Regions from separate parts of the Homo sapiens genome. Here regions 1, 2 and 3 are each linked to region 4. Evidence: fine-mapped expression QTL. A gene starts in region 4. Each other region holds a variant in brackets. All regions are shown on one strand. Distances are from middle to middle.

Region 1 (6,144 bases), 56 kb after region 4:
GGGGAGAGGCATTCTCTTCCGAGGCAGACCTATGTGGTAAGCCAAATCATATTCAAGTCTCTTGATGAGCATGAATCAGAATTAAGAAGGTCAGTGAATCTAATGTTTAGATATGCTTAGCTATCTCCACAGGAATCATCTTTCTAATGTACCTGAAATATTGTCATATTTGTCATCCTTTTAATTTTTATTTTTTTACTTTTAGAATTTCTTTGCTGACCATCTGTCTCCCCACGTGGAATTGTCATGTTCTTTCTTTAAATAATGCAAATATCCTCATATTGTTACTTTCTTAGTTTTGATATTTTGGGGGCTTTTCTTCAAGGAGACTCTGTTTTTCTTTGATCTGAGATATAATAATAATTTGATAGTTTAACTCTTTATATATTTTTTTATTTTCAAGTTACTGGAAGAGGCACCCATTCTCACCCGGTCTTATTTTCTTACTTGCCCTCTTGATTCTCCTGCCAAAAAGGATCTTTACCCAACCCCAAATTTTATCTTCCCTCCATCCATCCATCCACTTACTCACCCATTCACCTACCTACTTACTTAACTACTGATCAGCCTACCTCTCCATCCACATACTGTTAGAACCTCTATGGTTTAAATGAGATGGAAAGAGTTAATAAAAAAAATATTAATGGCAGTGTTAGTTTCTGATTTTGGTGAAGCTGGCTAAAAACAGGAAGGTATGAAATGTTTGAAACAGGAATGTAATGCTAGTAAGGGGACAAGAGCAGAAAAGGGAAGCCAGAGTTTTGAAGGTTAGAATCTAGTTAGCTTATCTTTATCTATGGTGGACCCAATAGTGGCTGGGAGTATACATGGTGATTGTGTATCAAGTTGTTTTGAAATGGTAGACTTTTTTAGCTTAACTTTGTCATACAGATAAGAGAACTGAAGGCTTAGAGATGGTCCGAGGCTATAAGAGAGCCCACAGGTGGCAGAGTCTGGCTTTCAACTGTACTCTTAAGTTGATGTTCTTTGTTATCTCAATAATGCATTAATTAATAATTAATAGTAATGCATTAATTAATAAATTGATGAGTTCCTCTAAATAGATGAGAGGCAGCAGAAATGGAACAGAGAAGAATGAAAGATGTTGAAGGAAGATTCAAGCCTTAGATGAATTGTTAAAAGTATTCTACTTTTAGACTAGTCTATTCCAGGCATCCTGTCAGTGCTATCATTAGTTTTTCTATTTGTTTTTCACAGAAGCCCCTCCAAGTAGGTATTGATATATCTATTTTGAGGATTTGAAAATAGAGACTCACTGGGGTTAAGTTACTTGCCTAAATGTTGTAGATCTGACATCTGAATCAGGGGTAAGTGGCTTTAAATACTGTACTTTTTCTGTTACACCACTAGTGAGTCTTTACTATACTGTACTTTTTATCATTGTTTTAGAGTATATTCATTCTACTGGAGAATCACCCAGGCACTTTCAGAGCCAAGATTTCACCCCCCTTTCTTTCAAGTATGCACTTCATGATTCAAAACAGCGTTGTTCAGGATTTCATAAACTTTTTCAGAAGCTCCGGGGCAGGTGTTAAATTTTCGGATTCCCAGGCATCTCTCCTAGAGATTGTCCAGGTACAATTATCAAAAGTTTCTTCAGATCCTCTAGAGTCAAAATGAGTTGGGAAGTGTTAATATATTATTGTGAATAAATTCAGGTCAAACAATTGATGACAATTTCATTTTCTGTTCACTTTTGGTTAAAGACAGGAAGGTACATACTGTTAGAACTGGGGAGGGAATAGCAATAGGGCATAGAAATATTACTGATATTCAGTAAATGTTTATTAGGTTCGTCAATTAAAATGATGTATTAGTTCTGTTAGATCAAGAAATTTTGTTTTAAAATTGGTGATAATGTATTTAATACTAATAAATAATATAGCAAGAAGCTACTCTGCTTAAAATCCATACATTTGTCCTTCAGAATAAAATCTGAGAACATATGCAAGCTGCTGATCATCTCTCTGATCCTGCCTTCTCCCCAGTAGCATCTCTCTCTTTTTTTTTTTTTTTGAGATGGGTCTTGCTATGTTACCCTGGCTGGTCTTGAACTCCTGATCTCAAGCAGTCCTCCCACCTCGGCTTCCCAAAGTGCTAAGATTACAGGCAGGAGCCACCACACTACACCTGGCCAGTGGCCAGCATCTCTCTCTATTCTGTTTCTCATCCTTGTTTCATAGTCACAACTGGCTGGCTGAAGAGCAGTAGCTGTATTGAGTCTTTGTTTTCCCAGCTCCTTGCATGTGATGTGTAGTAGGTGCCAGTAAATGTTTATGAGTGAACATAGCCACCATTTGCCTTCTTATCTTTCCTTTTTTTTTTTTTTTTTTTAAGACAGATTCTAGCTCTGTCGCCCAGGCTGGAGTGTAGTGGTGCTATCTCGGCTCACTGCAACCTCCAAGTGATTCTCCTGCTTCAGCCTCCCAAGTAGCTGGGACTATAGGTGCACACCACCCCGCCCAGCTAATTTTTTGTATTTAGTAGAGACAGGGTTTCACCATGTTGGCCAGGATGGTCTTGATCTCTTGACTTCGTGATCTGCCTGCCTCGGCCTCTCAAAGTGCTGGGATTACAGGCGTGGGCCACTGCTCCTGGCCGTCTTTCCTCTTATCTAATTAGTGTAAACATTCTGCTTGTTCAGTTTAAGTAGATAGTATAGTAATTAAGAACACAGATTCTGGAACCAGATTGTCCAGGTTCAAAGTTGTGTTTACGCCCTTGTTAACACTGTAGTCTTGGGGAAGTTACCTAACTTTTCTGTGCCTCATTTTCCATATCTGTAAAATAAAGATAATAAAACAACTATGTTATAGGGTTGTTTTGAGGCTTAAATGGATAAATACATTAAAGCACTTAGAACAGTGTTTTATATATATATAATAAATGCTATCTAAATGGCTTTTAGAAAATAAAAATAAAATCCATACTGTCTTCTGTCCTGTCATCATCTTTTACCTGGATCATAGTAGTAGCCTCCCAGCTGATCTTCTTGAGTCCAGTCTTGCTTTCCTCCAGACCAACATACATGCTTTTGTCAAAGTGAGTGAGCTTTCTAAAATACAAACTGGTTATGGTTTTACCCTGCTTAAAAACACTCTCTGGCTCTCTAAGTAAACGAATTAGATGAATCTTGTCGTATAAGCCTGTTGCCCACTTTTCTGGTCTATCTTTTCCCTCACTGATGCCCATGGTGCTAGACCCCATATGAACATTCAGTTTCTTGAACACATTATTTTATTTTATGACTTTGTTTCTTGCTTATGTATTCCCCTTTCTGGCATTTTAAAAACAGATGTGCCCTCTTGTACTAATTATTATTTCATTTCTGTTTAATATACTCATCAAACTATCACCCTTCTGCTAATTTAGAGCCACTGCTAGACTATGAGCTCTTTCATGGGAGGAACTAGATATGGTAGATATGGTAGTCAGCTACTATATAAGGAAATTTGGAAACTCATATGCATACTAATATTTTATTGGGTTTCATCCAGAGTAATACTTATATCATAGACCTTCTTTTTTGGTTTAGCATTGGAAGTTTTTTTTTTTTTTGTTTTGTTTT[G/T]TTTTGCCTGAGAGATCATTAGGACAATTCCTAAAATTGGGCTAGAGGTTGATATGGAGGTGAGGAAGGGGAAGGGGAGATTTATTAATATCAACATCTCTGGCAAAGAGAGTGTGGTTAGAAAAAGTGTATTCTGAAACTAACATTGCCTTGATACTTTCTACAAAACCCATAAGCAATTCAATTTAAAATATAAAATAAAAGGATAGAGTTTTTTTTGTTTATCAAATCAGAGGGCATAAAGATTGAGAAGCAGGGCCGGGTGGCTTACACCTGTAATTGCAGCACTTTGGGATGCCGAGGTGGGAGGATGGCTTGAGGCCAGGAGTTCAAGACCAGCTGGGTAACATAGCAGGAGACCCCATTTGTAAAACAAAAAAAATTAGCTGGGCATGGTGGCCCACGCCTGTAGTCCTAGCTACACAGGAGGCTGAGACAGGAGGATTGCTTGAGCCCAGGAGTTTAAGGTTACAGTGAACTATGATTGCACCACTGTACTCTAGCCTTGGTGACAGAGCAAGACCCTGTCTTTTTAAAAAAAAAAAAAAAAAGATTGAGAAGTACTGCTTTTGACACCAGCTAAACTGGGTCATATAATCTGCTTTTCTCTTAGCACAGGGTGAACTGTTAAAAGCAAATTTTTTTTTTTTTTTTTTTTTTTTGAGATGGAGTCTCACTCTGTCATCCAGGCTGGAGTGTAATGGCACGATCTTTGCTCACTGCAGCCTCTGCCTCCTGGGTTCAAGTGATTCTCCTGCCTCAGCCTCCTGAGTAGCTAGGACTACAGGCACCCATCATCATGCCTAGCTAATTTTTGTATTTTTGTAGAAACAGGGCTTCACCATGTTGGCCAGGCTGGTCTTGAACTGCTGACCTCAGGTGATCCACCCACCTTGGCCTCCCAAAGTGCTGGGATTTCAGGTGTGAGTCACCACGCCTGGCCCAAAGCAAATCTTACCATGCCTTTTTCACTACCAGTAATTTTTTTTTTCTTATTTTTAGATAGGCCCTCTCTCTGTCGCCCAAGCTGGAGTGTAGTGGCACCATCTTATCTCAGTGCAACCTTAAACTCCTGGGTACAGTGACCCTTCTGCCTCAGTCTCCCAAGTAGCTAGGACTATAGGTGCATGCCACTGCACCCAGCTAATTTTTTATTTTTTGTAGAGATGAGGTCTTCCGTTGTTGCCCATCCTGGTCTTGAACTCCTGAGCTCAAGCAATTCTCCCAAAGTGTTGGGATTACAAGTGCGAGACACTGCGCCTGGCAACTACCAGTAATTTTTAAAAGGGGATTCGTAAACTTATTTTTTAAAAAACTTTGATAACCTTTTCTTTAAATTCTATTCTGCTACTTCTTTTTTTGTTAATACTTTAAGTAGTAAAAATTGTTTATATCCTGAATTTTCATTACAGATAATGTAGTGTCTTTTATGTAATGTAGACATTTGTCCTGGTTTGTAACAGTGATGAATATAGAATATTTCCAGTAAAAATCAATAGTTTTAAATAAAACTAGCTGATTTGAGATAAATTTATATATACTCTGCTTTAAAGAAAAAGTCCTTGTAACTTTATCTCAAGTTTGAGATAGAACCTTAGTTTTTGTTGTAAATCCGTTATGATTTTATATTACTATTCACAGATGGAAAAGGGATAGCAGTGGAAATAAAATCATGCATCCTGTTTCTGGGAAGCATATCTTACAATTTGTTGCAATAAAAAGGAAAGACTGTGGAGAATGGGCAATCCCAGGGGTAAGCATTAAAATTAAATTAGTGTTTAAGTTCCTTTTAGTTGCTTTACTTACTACAGGGTTATTGTTTGTGAATCTTTTCTATTCCATTTTCCTCTATTCCTTCCCACTTCATTTAGTAATTCTTATGTTTTTCATCCCTGCATGAAGTGTCATTGTCAGCAACAAGTTTAGGATAATCCAAGACTGTTAGAATCTGCGTGTAATTCTGACACCTTTGGGAAATAACGTGGGCTTTGAAGTTAGATGTAGGTCTGTGTTCTGGCCGTTCTACTTGCAGCTGGGTGATTGGGAGTTCAGGCCCTCATCTTTAAAATAAAGAGATCTACTTCACAGGATTATTAGAGATCACATTTAATAGGCATTCATTATGTTGGGTCCCATTTCAGAATTTAACCTCCACTCCAAGCCCAAGGTAGTATTTTTAAGCACTTTTTGGTTGAATTCTGATAACTTTTGACAATATTTAAAAAATTAGCTTTTGTTATTTACTGTTCTGTGTAGTTTAAATAATTTCTATAATGTTATCAAGATGAGTATACTTTTGTTGGCTTGTAGTTTGAATTTATGGCAGTGGTATATTTGAAGTGGCCATTTATTTTTTATTTTTTATTTATTTATTTATTTTGAGACAGAGTCTCACTCTGTTGCCCAGGCTGGAGTGCATTGGCGCAATCTTGGCTCATTGCAACCTTTGCCTCCTGGGTTCATGCAATTCTTGTGCCTCAGTCTCCCAACGTAGCTGGGATTACAAGTGTGTGCCGCTATGCCTGGCTAATTTTTGTAATTTTAGTAGAGACAGG
Region 2 (6,144 bases), 130 kb after region 4:
CTTCTTTCTATCTTCCTTCTCTTTCCTTTTCTCTTAAGCATTAATAAGCTGTCTGAACACTGAACCAGACTGTAAACGCAGTCATCCATACCTCTGAAAGGAGGAACAGGATTCCTCTTTCATATTGGCCACATCAGTGACTCCCTGGAAATTTTAGTGCTGGTAGTTATTGCTTCAAGTCTTTCTAATTGAATTTTCCTTGTGTTGCCTAGCATTCCCCTGGTTTCTGAACCCTCCAGTCTGAACCCTCCAGTGGTTAGCTCCTTCTGTGGCAGCCTCAGCAAAATTTACAAGTCCTCTTCCTTCCCTTCTGGGCCTAGGGAACTTGTTTCAATATTTTTGGGTTTCAAGGCAGATGATGACAACTTGATCTGTTTATCACTTTGTCTAAAGTTTAATGAACTAAGAAAGACATACCATGTGTACTAGAAAAAGGAGAGGTTTGTCTTGTTACTTTCTTTTTCTTATTACTCTTGGCCTATCATTTCCTGGAGTATGTACATCCATGCATCCAAATAAGGCCAGGTATCTTCTGTTGAATTTGTTTATATCAGAGGAAGCCTGTAGACTGCTATTTTTAGCAATTATTACAACTATGGAAAAATTTCCTTTCTGGGAAATGTAGTAAACAAAACAATTATTATAGGTACTTTATAAACAGACTCAGAACGTTCCTGTTCACCTTGTTTTTACATAATAGTCAAAGGCCTTGTTATCAGAGAGCAAATCTCTTAGTCATATTTTGGCTAACATATACGTGCTGTTACCTGATCCAGTGTTAACACTGATGCTTTAGAGCTTTTAAAGTATTAATGAGTCTCTGGGGAGAGCTCTATGGTTTGGCCCTAAAGTCATCTGAAGGGTGAAAAAGACGTTCTTCTATTTTGAGTTCTCTGCTGAGTCACCATCTGACATCAAGGTGTCCCAGCCCTGTGAGTGTATATGATATACTCAGAGTCAATGACTTAAGACTTTTCTGGGCATCTGACCTTCAACTGCCCATCATCCTTCCTAATTGAACCTACCACCATAAGAGTCTGAGCTAGGGATAGACATGGTCATGCCTGTTGGGGCTTTGAGACTAACCAGAAATCCATCCAGACGTTAAAAGTATACATTAAACCTGAATCAAGCAAAGGGCACATACATTTAGTGCTCAGGGAAGGGAGTATTATGGAGATTTACATCTTCCACTGCTCTGCCCTTGCTCTCGGGAGCTGGCTGCCTCTCAGTGCCTCAAATAGGCCACGATCCCTCTTGCTCCAGGGTCTTTGCACAAGTGTTCACGCTGTCAGAATTCTCTCTCCAGCACCCGCTCCTCCCAGCCACCACCACCAAACACACACACACACACACACACACACACACACACACACACACGCACACACACAGAGTTAACCTCTATTCAGACTTCAGATCAAGGAAAGCCATTATTGATCCTGAGTGGAGGTCAGGATCCTTATATACTCTCTTGGAACAAAGGTGTTTTGCCTTCATAACACTTATTTCAGTGTATCATTATATATGGCATGTGTTCAAATAAAATGTGTTTTTTCTCACGCCACCAAATCCTGCCGTAAAAAAGAGGGATTTGACTTATATTCAAGTGCTTCCAAAGTTTCTTCATTTTGAGCAGCAAAGTACTATTCAAAAAAACAATTAGAAATCATCTCAAGAGCTGGGCACAGTGGCTCATGCCTGTAATCCCAGCACTCTGGGAGGCCGAGGTGGGTGATCACCTGAGGTCAGGAGTTCAAGACCAGCCTAGCCAACATGGCAAAACCCTGTCTCTACTAAAAGTACAAAAAATTAGCCAGGCGTGGTGGTGCACACCTGTAATCCTAGCCACTCAGGAGGCTGAGGCAGAAGAATTGCTCCAGCCCAGGAGGTAGAGGTTGCAGGGACCCAAGGTCACACCACTGCACTCCAGCCTGGGTGACAGAATGAGACTCTGTCTCAAAAAAAAAAAAAATCTCAAGCAATGCTTATTTTTATTCTTAGGAAGGTCACCTTGACAAAATGGATGAAAAAATAGATAAAGATATTTAAAGCAGGTTTAGTCATTATTCCTGAGGTATGACTTCATTATTGCAAGTTGGAATCACATAGTTTTAGAAAGCCACACTTACAGTTTCAAGTGGTTTTTAAATACGCCCTTTAAAAAGCACTGGAAAAACAATCTAGTCAGTAATGAAAGTGTGGAGAACATGACCACGAGTGAGGACTAATGCCTGGGGATTAAATTTGCAGCATCAGCAGATGTTTAGCAACTTGCAGAAGGATTGATGATGTGCTCTGTATTAGATAATTACAGCGTGGATCCAGTGAACATACACATTGGTGTTAAAGATGCGTATGAAGAGTTTTAACAAAATTGTTTCATGAAATGTGAGAAAGGAAAAAGTCATGTTAATAAGTATAAAATATTTAAATTAAAGTAACATATTAAATATGTATGTGAACCATAGATTAAATATCCCAAGTGTACATTACAATATATTACCCATTTGTACATGCTGTTTGGCCAAACACTTTGGTTGAGGATGTTCTCACTAGAAAGATGAAGATGGCATTGTATTTGGGGGCACCTTATGTTTGGTCCTATGCAGTTTTCATTATTGTGATGGTTTGATTAATGACCATTTTCATAACTACATAGTAAGCACCACAAGAGCTCAGCCCCTCTCTAGTTTTGCTCCTTGCTGCATTTCTGGAATTTTGCATGGGATAGAACACTGAATACATTAGTTGTTTGAGATGTAAGATAAAAATGCTAACTTATTTTCATAATTGCATGACCTAGAAAACACTGGAGGAACTGAAACAGAAACGTAATAAAAAGTTAATGAAAGATAAGATGTTTTAATACTTTTTACCCTGGTGTTAATCAAGATGAGATGAGTCTTTATAAATGTAAAAAGTCACAATT[CT/C]TTTTTTTCCCCCTGTAGAAATCAAATGGTTCACATTTATGCAATGATAATTCTGAGGCCTCTATTCATTATATTTGACTCACTGGGAATTCTAAGTTCAAAAAGGCCATTCATGTCAGAGTTAGATCAAACTGAAACTTACCCAATAGTCCCACAGACAGATCTTTTTGAAAAACATAGAAGTTGACCCTCCTGGTCTTAAAGTGTGAAACTTATATTTGTTTTATCTAAGTTCCTTCCTCAGGACAGGACCTTCAGGCTTCTAAAAAAGTATAAAAGAATGGAAACTCACCAGATCACTGCAGCAGATGCCTGACCGCTTATTCACCATGATTGTTTCCTTACCCCTACCTAGTTCTTATTTTCTTACACATTGTTACATTTTTCCCTTGCTATGTAAACCCCTAGTTTAAGTCAGTTAGTGAGATGGATTTGAGACTGTGCTCCCATCTCCTCAGCTGCAGCACCTGATTAAAGCCTTCTTCATTGGCAATACTTGTTGTCTCAGTGATTGGCTTTCTACGAAGTGAGCAGCAGGACCTAGACTGGAACCTTGCTGTTTCAATAACAAAACCATGAAAAAGAATTGTAATAACTACTACTTATTGAGCATGTACATTCATTATTTTAGTTAATCATACAATGATCATCTTGGCATGGTGGCTCACACCTGTAATCCCAGCACCTTGGGAGCCTGAGGCAAGCAGATCACTTGAGGCCTGGAGTTTGAGACCAGCCTGGCCAACATGACAAAACCCCATCTCTACTAAAACAACAAAAATCAGCCAGGCATGGTAGTACATGCCTGTAGTCCCAGCTACTCAGGAGGCTGAGGCACAAGAATCACTTGAACTCAGGTGGTGGAGGTTGCAGTGAGCTGAGGTCATGTCACTGCACTCTAGCCTGGGCAATAGAGCAAGACTCTGTCTCAAAAAAAAAAAAAATACAATGATCTTATGAATTAGCTGTTATCCACATTTCACAAGTGGGGGAAACTGAGGCTCCTGAGCTTAGCAGCCAACCTTTACCATGGGTTAGATACTGTAATAAATGCCTTACATGCTCAATCTCATTCAATTCCCATGACAATTTTATGACTGTTATTATATCTATTTCACAGATGAGAAGACAGAGGCACAGAATGGATTAGATTAAAACAACTAGAAGGTATGAGTGCCAGGATTCAAGTCCAGGCAGTCTGCCCCAGAATTCCCCTCTATAACCACTACACCATAGCACATCGTGAAGATGGGAGGAAGCAGTGGGAACTTGAAAAATGGATTTATTGCAGGGTTTGCTGCAGTATGTGTATCATGTGAGGCCATTTCTATTTCTCTTTCTTTGCCTTCCCAGTTGTTTTTCCCCTGTATGCCACAGTAAACTAGCCACTGTTTTAGCAGCTCTCTTGTTGATTTTTAAAATACCTATTCACTAAATCTTTAAAGGAAACATTTAGCTACTGCAATGGGTGTACATAAGTTGGTTGTGTAATAGGAAGGAAACAAGCCAGGACTGGAGACTTCATTTCTAAAGAAGGATTTTAAAGCAGACTAAGAGTTATTTCCCAGAGCAGGTCATGAAGCAGGAGTCTCTCTACACCCTTTCATTGCTATGACGACAGCCTGCTCCTGCTACATGCAGCCAGAAAAAGCAGCTTACATTTCAATGCTAGGAACATAGGGGAGAGGTTTACAAAAACACCAAACAAAGACAAAAAAACAAAAAAAAGACTCTTTCACTTGAATTTCAGTTAGAGAGGAAAAAATATCCCCTGGAGCAAGTCAAAAGCCCTATTCTTGCCTTTAGAAGAGATAAGAAAGAAGAAATGTTGGGGGCTTTCCCTCTTGTCCAAGTGGGCCAATAAAACAGAATTGACAGCAAAGCAGCATTTCTTCTCACTCTGTGTAATGGCAAGCTGGCATAGAACACTTTCTTTGGTTTCCTTTGACTTGGCCATTAAGAAGCTACTAACTGATGCAGCAGTGAAGTCTCATAGTAATAAATACCTCGTGTTGAGGCCCCCCACCAGGGGAAAATAGTAGTGTCCGATTTACTTTTACATTTCTTTGGATAAAAAAGGCAATTCAAAGAATATTTCCTTCTTGATCTCCATTGTTACTACCAGAGAAATCATTGCAAGTATGTAACAGAGGCCTCACTGATATACGAGATTCCTTATGAGCAACCAGTCAACTTTCCTATGTGTTTACTTCTCTGCCAGGTGCTATACTTGGCATTTAATAAACATCACATTTCATTCCTACAACGACCTCATTTGTGTGTATTATTATCCCCATTTTGCTAAACAGATGAGTAAACTGAGTCATGCAGGTGGGAAGTAACTGCCAAAGCTTACACTGATTGTAAGAAGCAGAGTCAGGATTCTAGCCCAGATGCATTGGACTCTGAAGCCCATGCTCTGTCCACTCTGCTGTGCTGCCTCAGAGGCATACACCTGGCATTCATATTTTATTATAGAGCAAAACGTATAAGTACAAGGAAGAAACCCTGAGAAAATATCTAGAGTCAGTTCCCGTTCTACGGAGTTTCAATAGGGACATATAGTTAGTCCAGTACTTTCATATTATCTACGATTGATTGATTGCTTTAATGTACCAAACATGGCTCTTTTCTTCACTTAATTCTTACAACAAATCTCTGAGGTAGCTACTGATTTTATAATCCCATTTCCATGAATGAAGAGACTGAGGCACAAAGAGATGAAGTTGTTTGCCCAAAGTCACAGAGCTATTTTGTGGTAAAGCTTGGATATAAACCACGGTCTTATATAAACAGGGTCCATATGGTCAGATATAAACCACAGGTCATGGCCTTATTCACTTTATTAGATTGCCTCCCCACCTTTGGAACAATCATCAAGACCATGCACTCTGTTTTTCAAAGTTCTATCCATCTTTTGATGACTAAGACAAAAGCCAGGCTAGCCCTAGGTAATGCTATCATCGCTAACTCAGCCTTTGGCAGAAGATGCCCTGTGAGCCCCGTAAGAAACAGACCCTGGCCTGGTTGGACATCTCTCAGGAAGCCAGGCCTACTGGGAAGTTCTACTGGATTTATTTATGGGGGTCTCCTTCTCCACTGAAGATCATTCTAGAGGGATAAGTGAGGACTATGTGCACTTCAGATCTTCTAACAAGTTGTTTATGCCCTTCTCGGTAGAAAAATGTTCCCAACCAGTTCTGGATATGGTGCT
Region 3 (6,144 bases), 62 kb after region 4:
TTTTTAGTAGAGACAGGGTTTCACCATCTTGGCCAGGCTGGTCTTGAACTCCTGACCTCGTGATCCACCCACCCTGACCTCCCAAAGTGCTGGGATTACAGGCATGAGCCACTGTGCTTGGTGAACTTTAGGCTAATTTCTATGAGCCAAATAGTCAAACTTCACTTAGGTTGAAAGCAATAACGTAATAATGATTTCATCATAGAATCTTGCATTTTTATTGTTATTTAAAATTCTTATCAGGAAACTGCTGTCATTGTTATCATTTTGACAGTTATTCATCTAATCAGTGTATTTTTAGTATCTTCCTTTTGTCAGCTAATATTTTAGACACTGAGAATACAACAGAGCAACATGAACAAATAACCTCTGTCTTTTGGTGCTCCCATTCCAGTTGGAGAGACAGATAATATAAGATACATAAGTTAAATATATCGCATGTTAGAAGGCAGTAAGTATTAAGAAACAAAAGCAAGGTAGAGGACTAGGAAGTGTTTGAGAGTTTGCGATTTTAGACAGGGCAGTTAAGAGAAGACCTCCCTGAGGAGGTGCATGTTAGGTAACTATCTGAAGGAAATGAATTAGTGAACCATGCAGATATCTAGAGAAAAGCATCTTGGATAGAGATAATAGCAGGTACAAAGGCTCTCAGCGGGCAGCATGTTAGGCAGGTCCTGGGAACATTGAGGAGGTCAGTGTGGCTGGAATGGAATGAACAATGGGGGAAGAATCAATGTGCTGTGTTATTTCTAACCTCCAGTCCTTTTTCCTTAGTTCGAGTTTGGCAAGTACCAGGAAATTGGTTTGATTGCCATAGGCTAACCTTGGACCAATCACTGTGGCCAAATACATGAGGTATCCTTATTGGCTCCTTCTACTAGCAACAGATGGTTTAGAGAACAGTGTATCACAGAGAAATGGGGATCACTATTATAGGCAGATTGAATAATAAATGTTCACTCTACTACTCAATAAATATTTGTTGAACAAATCAAAGCTGATCCCTTTTTTCAAAATTTTTAATGTGACTCTTAGGGGATGGTGGATCCAGGAGAGAAGATTAGTGCCACACTGAAAAGAGAATTTGGTGAGGAAGCTCTCAACTCCTTACAGAAAACCAGTGCTGAGAAGAGAGAAATAGAGGAAAAGTTGCACAAACTCTTCAGCCAAGACCACCTAGTGGTAAGAAATAGTGTTTCTGGGAGGGATTTAGTTCTGTGGATTGATGAAAATGACTTAAAAGTTGACCTGGAAATCTGTATGTCCTTCTCTAAATAAAGTGGAATACTTGTATATTTAAAATATATTCACAAAAACAAATTACAGATCTTCACTGTAAATAGGTTTCTATTTAAAGTTTTATAGCCCAACTTTAGGCTATATAGGCTAAAATGATATATATTTAGTTCATTTATATCATTTATTATAATAACTTTTTTCTTCTTAGTTTTTCTTTCTTTTTTTTTTGAGATGGAGTCTCGCTCTGTCACCCAGGCTGGAGTGCAGTGGCACGATCTTGGCTTACTGCAACCTTCACCTCCCAGGTTCAAGCAATTCTCCTGCCTCAGCCTCTGGAGTAGCTGGGATTACAGGCTTCCACCACCACGCCCGGCTAATTTTTGTATTTTTAGTAGAGACAGGGTTTCACCATGTTGGCCAGGCTGGCCTTGAACTCCTGACTTCAGGTTACCTGCCCGCCTCGGCCTCCCAAAGTGCTGGGATTACAGGTGTAAGCCAACACGCCTGGCCTGTAAACTATTTTCTTTCACGTTGAGTACCCATCCAACAGAAAGCTTTTTGTATGTGCATGAATTCAGCTCTCTCTGAAAGAACATTTACATTTTAAATTATGTCATACAGAGATTTTTCTGGTTGATAATCATTTAAGTCTCATGTCTGTTTTGTCCATATACCCTCTGTGATAGGGTCTTGCTCTGTTGTTCAGGCTGGAGTGCAGTGGTGTTATGGCTCACTGCAGTTTTGACCTCTTGGGCTCCTGTGATCCTCCCACGTCAGTCTTCTGGGTAGCTGGGACCACAGGCAAACACCACCGCACTGGGCTAATTTTTTGTTTTTTGTTTTATAGAGATGGGGTTTTACCATGTTGTCCAGGCTGGTCTTGAACTCCTGGGCTGAAGGATCCCCCCACCTCGACCTCCCAAAGTGCTAGGATTACAGGTGTGAGCCTGGCATTCCGTGCTTTTAAAAAAATACCTTACAAGGTATATGCACACTAATAATAAGAAAATAACAGA[G/GT]TTTTTTTTTTTTTTTTTTTTGAGATGAAGTCTCGCTCTTGTCCCCAGGCTGGAGTGCAATGGCGCGATCTCGGCTCACTGCAACCTCTGCCTCCCAGGTTCAAGTGATTCTCCTGCCTCAGCCTCCAGAGTAGCTGGGATTACAAGCATGTGCCACCATGCCTGACTAATTTTTGTATTTTTAGTAGTGACGGGGTTTCACCATGTTGGCCAGGCAGGTCTTGAACTCTTGACCTCAGGTGATCCGCCTGCCTCGGCCTCCCAAAGTCCTGGGATTACAGGCGTGAGCCACCGCACCCGGCCTTTTTTTGGTCAGTTTTTATTTGGATTGCTTGTTTTCTTTTCAGAATTGGGATTTAGTTATTTATGTTGTCCAGATTTTTTTGAGTTACGTTTGTGCTAGATGAATAGATCCAAATATCTTCATATATTAATAGCTTAAGTAGTAATCTTTAGTTTTATTTATAGATCTCCTTTGTTTAACTAGAAGAATCTACCTTTGTATTTCAGAAACTATAATCACAGAAAAATACTTAAGTGATGGACTCTTAAAAAATCATATTGCCCAAATTTGACTGTTCTCAGATTCTGAAATTAGAGTTTGAAGTGTTGAGGGTTTCATGATTTATTTATTTGTTTTGAGACAGTGTCTGGCTCTGTCACCAGGCTGGAGTGCAGTGATGCGATCTCGGCTCACTGCAACCTCTGCCTCACGGGTTCATGCGATTCTCCTGCCTCAGCCTCCTGAGTAGCTGGGACTACAGGTGTTCTCCACCATGCCCAGCTAATTTTTGTGTTTTTAGTAGAGACGAGGTTTCACCATGTTGGCCAGGATGGTCTTGATCTCTTGACCTCATGATCCGCCCACCTCCGCCTCCCAAAGTGCTGGTATTACAGGCATGAGCCACCACGCCTGGCCTGAGGGTTTCATGATTTTTAAAGCTGCCTCAAAAGAGAATATTGTTCTTTGGGAAATTTGAAACAAGCACATGAAGTACTACATTAAAAGTTTTATGATATTTACATTTCTTTCTTTTTTTCTTTCTTTCTTTCTTTTTTTTTTTTTTTGAGACAGAGTCTCGCTGTGTTGCCCAGGCTGGAGTGCAGTGGCGCGATCTTGGCTCACTGCTACCTCCACCTCCTGGGTTCAAGTAATTTCTCCTGTCTTAGCCTCCCGAGTAGCCGGGACTACAGGCACCTACCACCATGCATGGCTAATTTTTTTTGTATTTTTAGTAGAGACAGGGTTTCACCTTGTTGGTCAGGCTGGTCTCGAACTCCTGACCTCAGGTGATCCACCCGCCTCAGCCTCCCAAAGTGCTGCGATTACAGGCGTGAGCCACCGCGCCCGGCTATTTACATTTCTTTAAAAAAATTTTGATAGAAACACATAATGTCAAATTTACCATCTAAACTGTTGAAGGTACAGCTCAGTAGCATTAAGTATGTTCATGTTGTTGGGCAACAGGATATTTACATTTCTGATGCTAGTGAAGGTAACATGCTCTGCTGTACTCACTACACCTTGGACTTTTAAAAAATTTGTCTTCTTTTGAAAATAGATATATAAGGGATATGTTGATGATCCTCGAAACACTGATAATGCATGGATGGAGACAGAAGCTGTGAACTACCATGACGAAACAGGTAACTTTATATTTATTAAACTGGCTGGGATTAAAGGATCAATTTAAGCCATTAGCCCACTAAGGCATGATTAAATCTGGACTATTTAGCATCTTAAACCAATTAACTGTTGATTGTAGGACTGTAGTTATATGAAAGCAAAATTGTTGGTATTAAAGGAATACATAGAAGAAATCTTCAAAACTTTTATCACCAGTGACTAAATTTTCTTTAATCCATTGGTAACATTTGAAATTAAGGATGAAATTATGGGCTAAAATGATATGCTTTAAAGATGTCAGATTATTTATTGAGTATAGTTCCCTTTTTTTGCAAAACAAAAGCAACTGGGATTTGGGTAGGAAGTATGGCAATGATAAAGGAAATGGGATTTATATCTTACTATTTCAAATATTTTTATAATAATCTTGGATTGTTAATACACAAAGCAATAACAAAAAATTCCAAGTACTGAAAAAATTTTAAATGAATGCTGTTTCTGGTGTATGGAATTTAAAATTTTATGAGGAGGGTCAAACCTGTTATTACAGAAGGAGAAAGGAAAAATCTGCTGTCTTAAAAATTAATTTGGTCTTAATGTACACATTGAATGGCTCCCTTGAAACATATTTTATTGCTAAATTTGATTTGTTTTTATTTGTAGCATAAAAGTGGGGGCACCATGCTAGAGAAATGAAATGAATGTTCCACTCATAGTTCTTTCTGAGCTGTGTAACCTTGTACAAATCATTTGTCCTCTTGGACTCAGTTTTTTCACTTACAAAATGGGCTAGAACTAGATCTGTCATTTCCATATCCTGTGCTTTTGCTTGTTGAACTTGGAGGAAACTCCTGGGACCATTTTCTATTCCTGTATTTCCACTAAGGTGTATTAGAAGAGTTTATCCTAGTATGAAAACTTAGAAGAAATATGCAGATGTAAATTAGAAGCAGGTCTGTACAACTTTAGTACTGATAAATTTGTTAACTACTTTAAAGTTTTGGAGTTAAAAACAATGACTGATCCTCCAGAAGTTGATTATAGAGTTTATGGATTGTTCACTGTTTTTACCCTATCTTTTTCTCTCTTTAAACTTAAAAAATTTTGTTTTGATAATTCCAAAATCTCTGCCATATTTGAGTTCGGTTTTAATATTTGCTTTGTTTCTTTAGGCTATGTTTTTTGCCTTTTAGCGTGCTTTTAGTGCTTTTTTTTCTTTTTTCTTTTTTTTTTTTTTTAACCCCGAGATGGAGTCTTGCTCTGTCACCCACGCTGGAGTGCAGTGGCATGATAATGGCTCACTGCAACCTCTGCCTCTCGGGTTCAGGCGATTCTCCTGCCTCAGACTCTCAAGTAGCTGGTACTACAGGCATGCACCACCATGCCTGGCTAATTTTTGTATTTTTAGTAGAGATGGGGTTTCACCATGTTGGCCAGGCTGGTCTCAAACTCCTTACTTCAGGTAATCCACCCACCTTGGCCTCCCAAAGTGCTGGGATTACAGTCATGAGCCACTGCGCCTGGCTGTAGTGCTTTTTTGAAAATTGACCATGATATAACTTGTAAGGGAACTAAGGCAAATAGTTCTTTAGCGTGAGGTTTTATGTTTATCTGGCTAGGAGTTAGGCTGTGTTTTTTGTTTGCTGTCATTGTATGTGTCAGAGGCTAAAATTTCCTCTAGTTTTGGGTTTCCCTGGAGACTTATTAAATGAGGTCTGAAGCATGCCCTTCTTTCAGCTGTCTTCCCCTTTTATTAAACAGGAGTCCTATTGATAGATATGGTGGTAAATTCTAGAGGAAGGGGAATCATAGGAGAATATATGGTTAGATGTCAGTCTTTTAGTGAGCCTGTGGCCCTGGGCTGTGACCCTTCATATGTTATTCTCAGCTTCCCTCCTTCCTCCCCAATCCTTAGGAAAGACAGGAAATCCAGCGGGGGCTGGAGTTGGGTATTTCCTTTCCCTCAGGTTGCTTAGGGCTTGGTAAAATAGTTTTCCTTGAGGGCAGAGTGATCTGGGTGTATTTGAAATTGGTTACCTTTCCCCTCTCCATGTTAGAAAGGAGAGAGGATTTTTCTCCAGTCTTCACCTGGTGGCTTTCTTGGAGGTAAAGCTCACTAAAATGTAGGCCCCCTCTTCATACTGGTATGGCTGACCCCCTAGGAGATTTTATCTTTCAAGCTAGTCCAAAGGTCAGCTTTCAGCAGTTAGTTACCCTTTAAGTGTTCCTACCAGGTGCTGACTCCAGCGGTAGGCTTCTCTC
Region 4 (4,000 bases):
TTAGCCAGGCTGGTCTTGAACTCCTGACCTCAGGTCATCTGCCCGCCTCGGCCTCCAAAAGTGCTGGGATTACAAGTGTGAGCCACCGCATCCAGCCTGCACTTGTAATTACTTAATGTCCATTTTCCCTACTAGACTGAGGTCATGGAACCTTATTTTCTGTTTGTCACCCTATCCCTAATGTCTAAGCAGCAGACAGTCATTATTTGTTGATTGCTGTCTTCATCAGCCACTCACTGGGTTAACCCTCATTTAACTTCACATCCTTTGAATTATTGTTTACAGCATTGCATGTCAACTAGTGTGTAATGGATAATGTTTCAGGCCATCAGGTATCTTCTAGAAACCCCTTTGTTCATCTACCAAAGGTCAAATAAAAGGTTGGATTCTAGGTCCTCTTCTCCTCCCTAAGCCACACCTACACTTGTCCTAGGTAAAAAATTACACTGAAAGTTTTTTTCCCTTTTATTGTTTTTACTAAAAGATGCTTTCCCGCCACTCCTTCAGTATCACAGGTCAAACGTGGTAAAAAATGTTTTTTAAAAAAATTTGAGACAGGGTCTCACTCTGTCACCCAGGCTGGAGTGCAGTGGGGCGTTTACAGCTCACTGCAGTCTCCACCTCCCAGGCTCAAGCAACCCCCCACCTCAGCCTCCCGGAAAAGATGCTTTTTAAAATTACTCTTGGCAATAACTATGGCAATGTAGCATTGGTTTCTGTTGAGTATAATCTTTTTGTTTGTTTTTTGAGACGGAGTCTAGCTCTGTCGCCCAGGCTGAAGTGCAGTGGCGCCATCTTGGCTCACTGCAACCTCCGCCCCGCGGGGTTCCCGCCATTCTCCTGCCTCAGCCTCCCCAATAGCTGGGACTACAGACGCCCGCCACCACGCCCGGCTAATTTTTTTTTGGTATTTTTAGTAGAGACGGGGTTTCAGTGTGTTAGGATGGTCTCGATCTCCTGACCTCGCGATCCGCCTGCCTTGGACTCCCAAAGTGCTGGGATTACAGGCGTGAGCCAACGGCGAGTATAATCTTTCAAACCACTTTTCTCATTAACAGTAAGTAGGACTTTCTCTTAATAGGTACAAGCTTCTTACTCTTTTAATATATAGCTAAAACGATTGTTTTTTCCCTATTTTTAAAATAGAGGGATCAATGAAATCAGGTTCAGGAAAAAATTATGAGTTATCCTTAGGGCAAAAATGGGGATCAATTTACAAATGGGGCAGTAACTGGGACTATTATAACCTCTAGGTCTGTTTATCATGTGATCATACAACATATTAATTCATGCCCTCCCATCTGCAAAATGGCAATACTAATTTTTTTTTCCTCCCTGCTTTGCAGAGATGAGGTAAAGGGTGGTTGCCAGCAAAATGCAGACACATCCACAAATTAAAGGTACCAGAAAGTAAAACATAGTAAACACTGTTACCTTATTTATATCCCAGAGAACCAGCTTGCTTTTAAGTTTAGCAAATTCATAGGCAGTCAGTCTCCCAATTCCATGCCCAGCTCCTGTAATCAGCACGATTTCGCCGGTGACTGATTTTCTCCTCTTAGGAATAAAAAGCTTCACGAAGGACTCTAGGGAGCAGACGATCAGTAACGGGAGAAGCAGGAGGATGTCCAGAAGAAATTTCATCCCTTTTGTGGCTGCGAGCGTTTGGTGTGTTTTTTTTTTTTTTTACCACTCTAAACTGCTTTTAGAGGGTAGCTCGATCTAACACCAGAAAGAGTAGGGGCGAGAGCAAGGAGGAACTCCCGTATCAAAGAAAAACAACTCCGAAACCGTTCCTTCCGCTGGGCTGGGCTTTGTTGGTCTTTCGCAATTGGCTCGGGCTGCAGTGCTTGCTAGCTCAGAGATCTGGGAGGGACGAAGTCCAGACCGGAGCAAAGCTTCCTAGTTCTGCTTTGCGCAGCCCCCACGCGGTGTGTGGCCGCGATTGTCTTTTACACCACTTTCTCCCGGTGTCGTGAGCCGGCCTTGGAGGGTTAGTTGCTCACTTGTTTTCCTAAATTGGATAAGTTCCAAGGATAACCGACAGTGTCCACAGGCCAGATGCTTCTTTCATAGTTGAAGGTTGCTTATCACTAGATAGGGGGTGCCGCTGGGCGCGGCGGCTCTCGCCTGTGATCCTGGCACTTTGAGAAGCCCTGGCGGGAGGATCGCTTGACCCCAGGAGTTCGAGATCAGCCTGAACAACATAGGGAGACCCCCGGTCTCTTTTTTTTTTTTTTTAATTAGCCAGGCGTAGTGGCGTGTGCCTGTAGTTCCAGCTACTCGAGAGACTGAGGCACGGGAATTGCTTGAGTCCAGGAGGTGGAGGCTACAGTGAGTGAAGATCGCGCCACTGCACTCCAGCCTGGACGAAAAGGCCAGACTTTGTCCTAAAAAACAAAAACTAGATAGAGGATGCAAATGTAGATTCCTATCTTAAAGGATCCTGAAAAGACCAATCGTTCTGCTTCCAGCTGAGAAATTGCGCTACATCACATTTTAGTTTGAACTAAGCACGATTTCTGGAAGACAGGGGAAATTTTGTCTGTTCAAGGACAGCTTCAATCAAGCGCCAGAAAAAATTGTTATCGTATTAAAGGGATTGTTTCCACAAGAAAGAAGAGTATATTTGAATAATCATTTTTCACTTGACCTATTAGAGTTTGAAAATAAAAAATATATGTTGTACTTTAGGAATTTTATCTTTATTCAAGTGAATAAATAGCAAATCATTTAGCCTAAAGATTACCTATGTAACATTTGGTTTTGTAGCCTATATAAATGGGTATTCAGTATATGCTAACTAGTGACTTGAAAAAATTCTAGAGATTGGTTACTGGAAGAAAAGACCTAACTAGGGCTTGTGTCCAGTAAGAGCTTAATAATGGTATTGCATGCATTTTTTTCCAACTCATTTTTGACAGACATTGGATTTGGGTTTTGCGCAAGACACTCCAGTGCTTGGGAAGGGACTTTGTTGTGTGACAATAGTCAACTTTCATATTTAAGAGCCAGAAAGATCACACAAAAAAATCAAAGTTCACAAATAGTTCAAACTCGATTGTCCCTCTTACTTAAGCAGCCATACGTTGTTATAGGGGATGAAGGGATAGTGGCAGCCTCACAAAAGTGAACCCCATTATAGAATTCTTTGAATTCAGAATATCTACAACTTTTTTTTGGATAGCCTCCAAATCCAAATTTACAAAACACTTGTATAGAAAGTTTACAAAGTGTTCTTCCACATATATTATTTCATTTGATTTTCAAAAGCCTCCTAGGAAATAGAGAAAAGTAGAGTCAGGATATATTTATACCTATACTGTAAATGAATAAATCTGTTAGATCAACTTTAAAATCTACACAGTGAGTAAAAGTGTAACTGGGGCTACACATATGTTCAGTGTTTGTCAATTTTTTGGTCCAACACCTACAGGAATAAATTACATCTGACATGGTGATCTACTATAAGAAGTGTTTCAACTATGTTGAGTTTCATATATTGAGGCTCTAGCTATGCTATTTTTTTTTTTTTTAAAGGAGTCTCCCTCTGTCTCCAGGCTGGAGTGCAGTGGCGAAATCTTGGCTCACAGCAACCTCAACCTCCACCTCCCAGGTTCAAGCGATTCTCCTGCCTCAGCCTCCCAAGTAGCTGGGACTACAGGCACGCACCACCACACCCAGCTAATTTTTGTATTTTTAGTAGACAGGGTTTCCCCATGTTGGCTAGGATGGTCTCAATCTCGATCTCCTGTTCCACCCACCTTGGTCTTCCCAAGTGCTGGGATTACAGGCGTGAGCCATGGCACACGGTCTGGCTATGCTATTTCTTATTCCATTCTATTAATTAAAAAAAACTGGGTAGTTTTAACCTACAGTTGATCAAGGTTTCATTGGTTAAGGGAAAGAACACAGCATTTGGACGCAGTCGTACCTGAATCCCTTATGTGTATGTGACTTCATCTCTCTAAACATGTTTCTAAATTTGTAAAATTGAAAT

Direction of the effects. Positions count from the first base shown, and alleles are read on the strand shown. Sizes are in standard deviations (SD) of each study's normalised expression. Not every link is listed here.
For the expression in lymphoblastoid cells of the gene that starts at base 1,762 in region 4, GT is the low allele of the variant in region 3 and G is the other (moderate effect, 0.61 SD a copy in CAP).

Evidence for each region. PIP is the estimated chance that this variant, and not a neighbour inherited with it, causes the effect.
Region 1: its variant is the best candidate, but not a certain one, in a credible set for the expression of HSD17B11 in whole blood (INTERVAL, PIP 0.54).
Region 2: its variant is the best candidate, but not a certain one, in a credible set for the expression of HSD17B11 in whole blood (TOPMed, PIP 0.51).
Region 3: its variant is the best candidate, but not a certain one, in a credible set for the expression of HSD17B11 in lymphoblastoid cells (CAP, PIP 0.68).

Annotation. Positions count from the first base shown.
Region 1 is chr4:87,443,912-87,450,055 of GRCh38, forward strand. It overlaps NUDT9 (nudix hydrolase 9), which reads left to right. Exons shown (of 8, transcript NM_024047.5): 5 at 5,231-5,342. Among named protein-coding and RNA genes, the nearest start is that of SCPPPQ1, 24 kb to the right of the region's middle. The variant G/T (reference allele first, on the strand shown) is at 3,590.
Region 2 is chr4:87,521,303-87,527,446 of GRCh38, forward strand. All of the region lies in intron 1 of SPARCL1 (SPARC like 1), which reads right to left. LOC124900729 (a long non-coding RNA gene) reads left to right here. Exons shown (of 2, transcript XR_007058171.1): 2 at 4,051-5,193. Among named protein-coding and RNA genes, the nearest start is that of SPARCL1, 5.0 kb to the right of the region's middle. The variant CT/C (reference allele first, on the strand shown) is at 2,930.
Region 3 is chr4:87,450,554-87,456,697 of GRCh38, forward strand. It overlaps NUDT9 (nudix hydrolase 9), which reads left to right. Exons shown (of 8, transcript NM_024047.5): 6 at 1,036-1,182; 7 at 3,818-3,902. Among named protein-coding and RNA genes, the nearest start is that of SCPPPQ1, 17 kb to the right of the region's middle. The variant G/GT (reference allele first, on the strand shown) is at 2,256.
Region 4 is chr4:87,389,427-87,393,426 of GRCh38, forward strand. It overlaps HSD17B11 (hydroxysteroid 17-beta dehydrogenase 11), which reads right to left and starts at 1,762. Exons shown (of 7, transcript NM_016245.5): 1 at 1,435-1,762. The coding sequence starts at 1,644. RefSeq lists enhancers at 1,974-2,043, 2,057-2,629.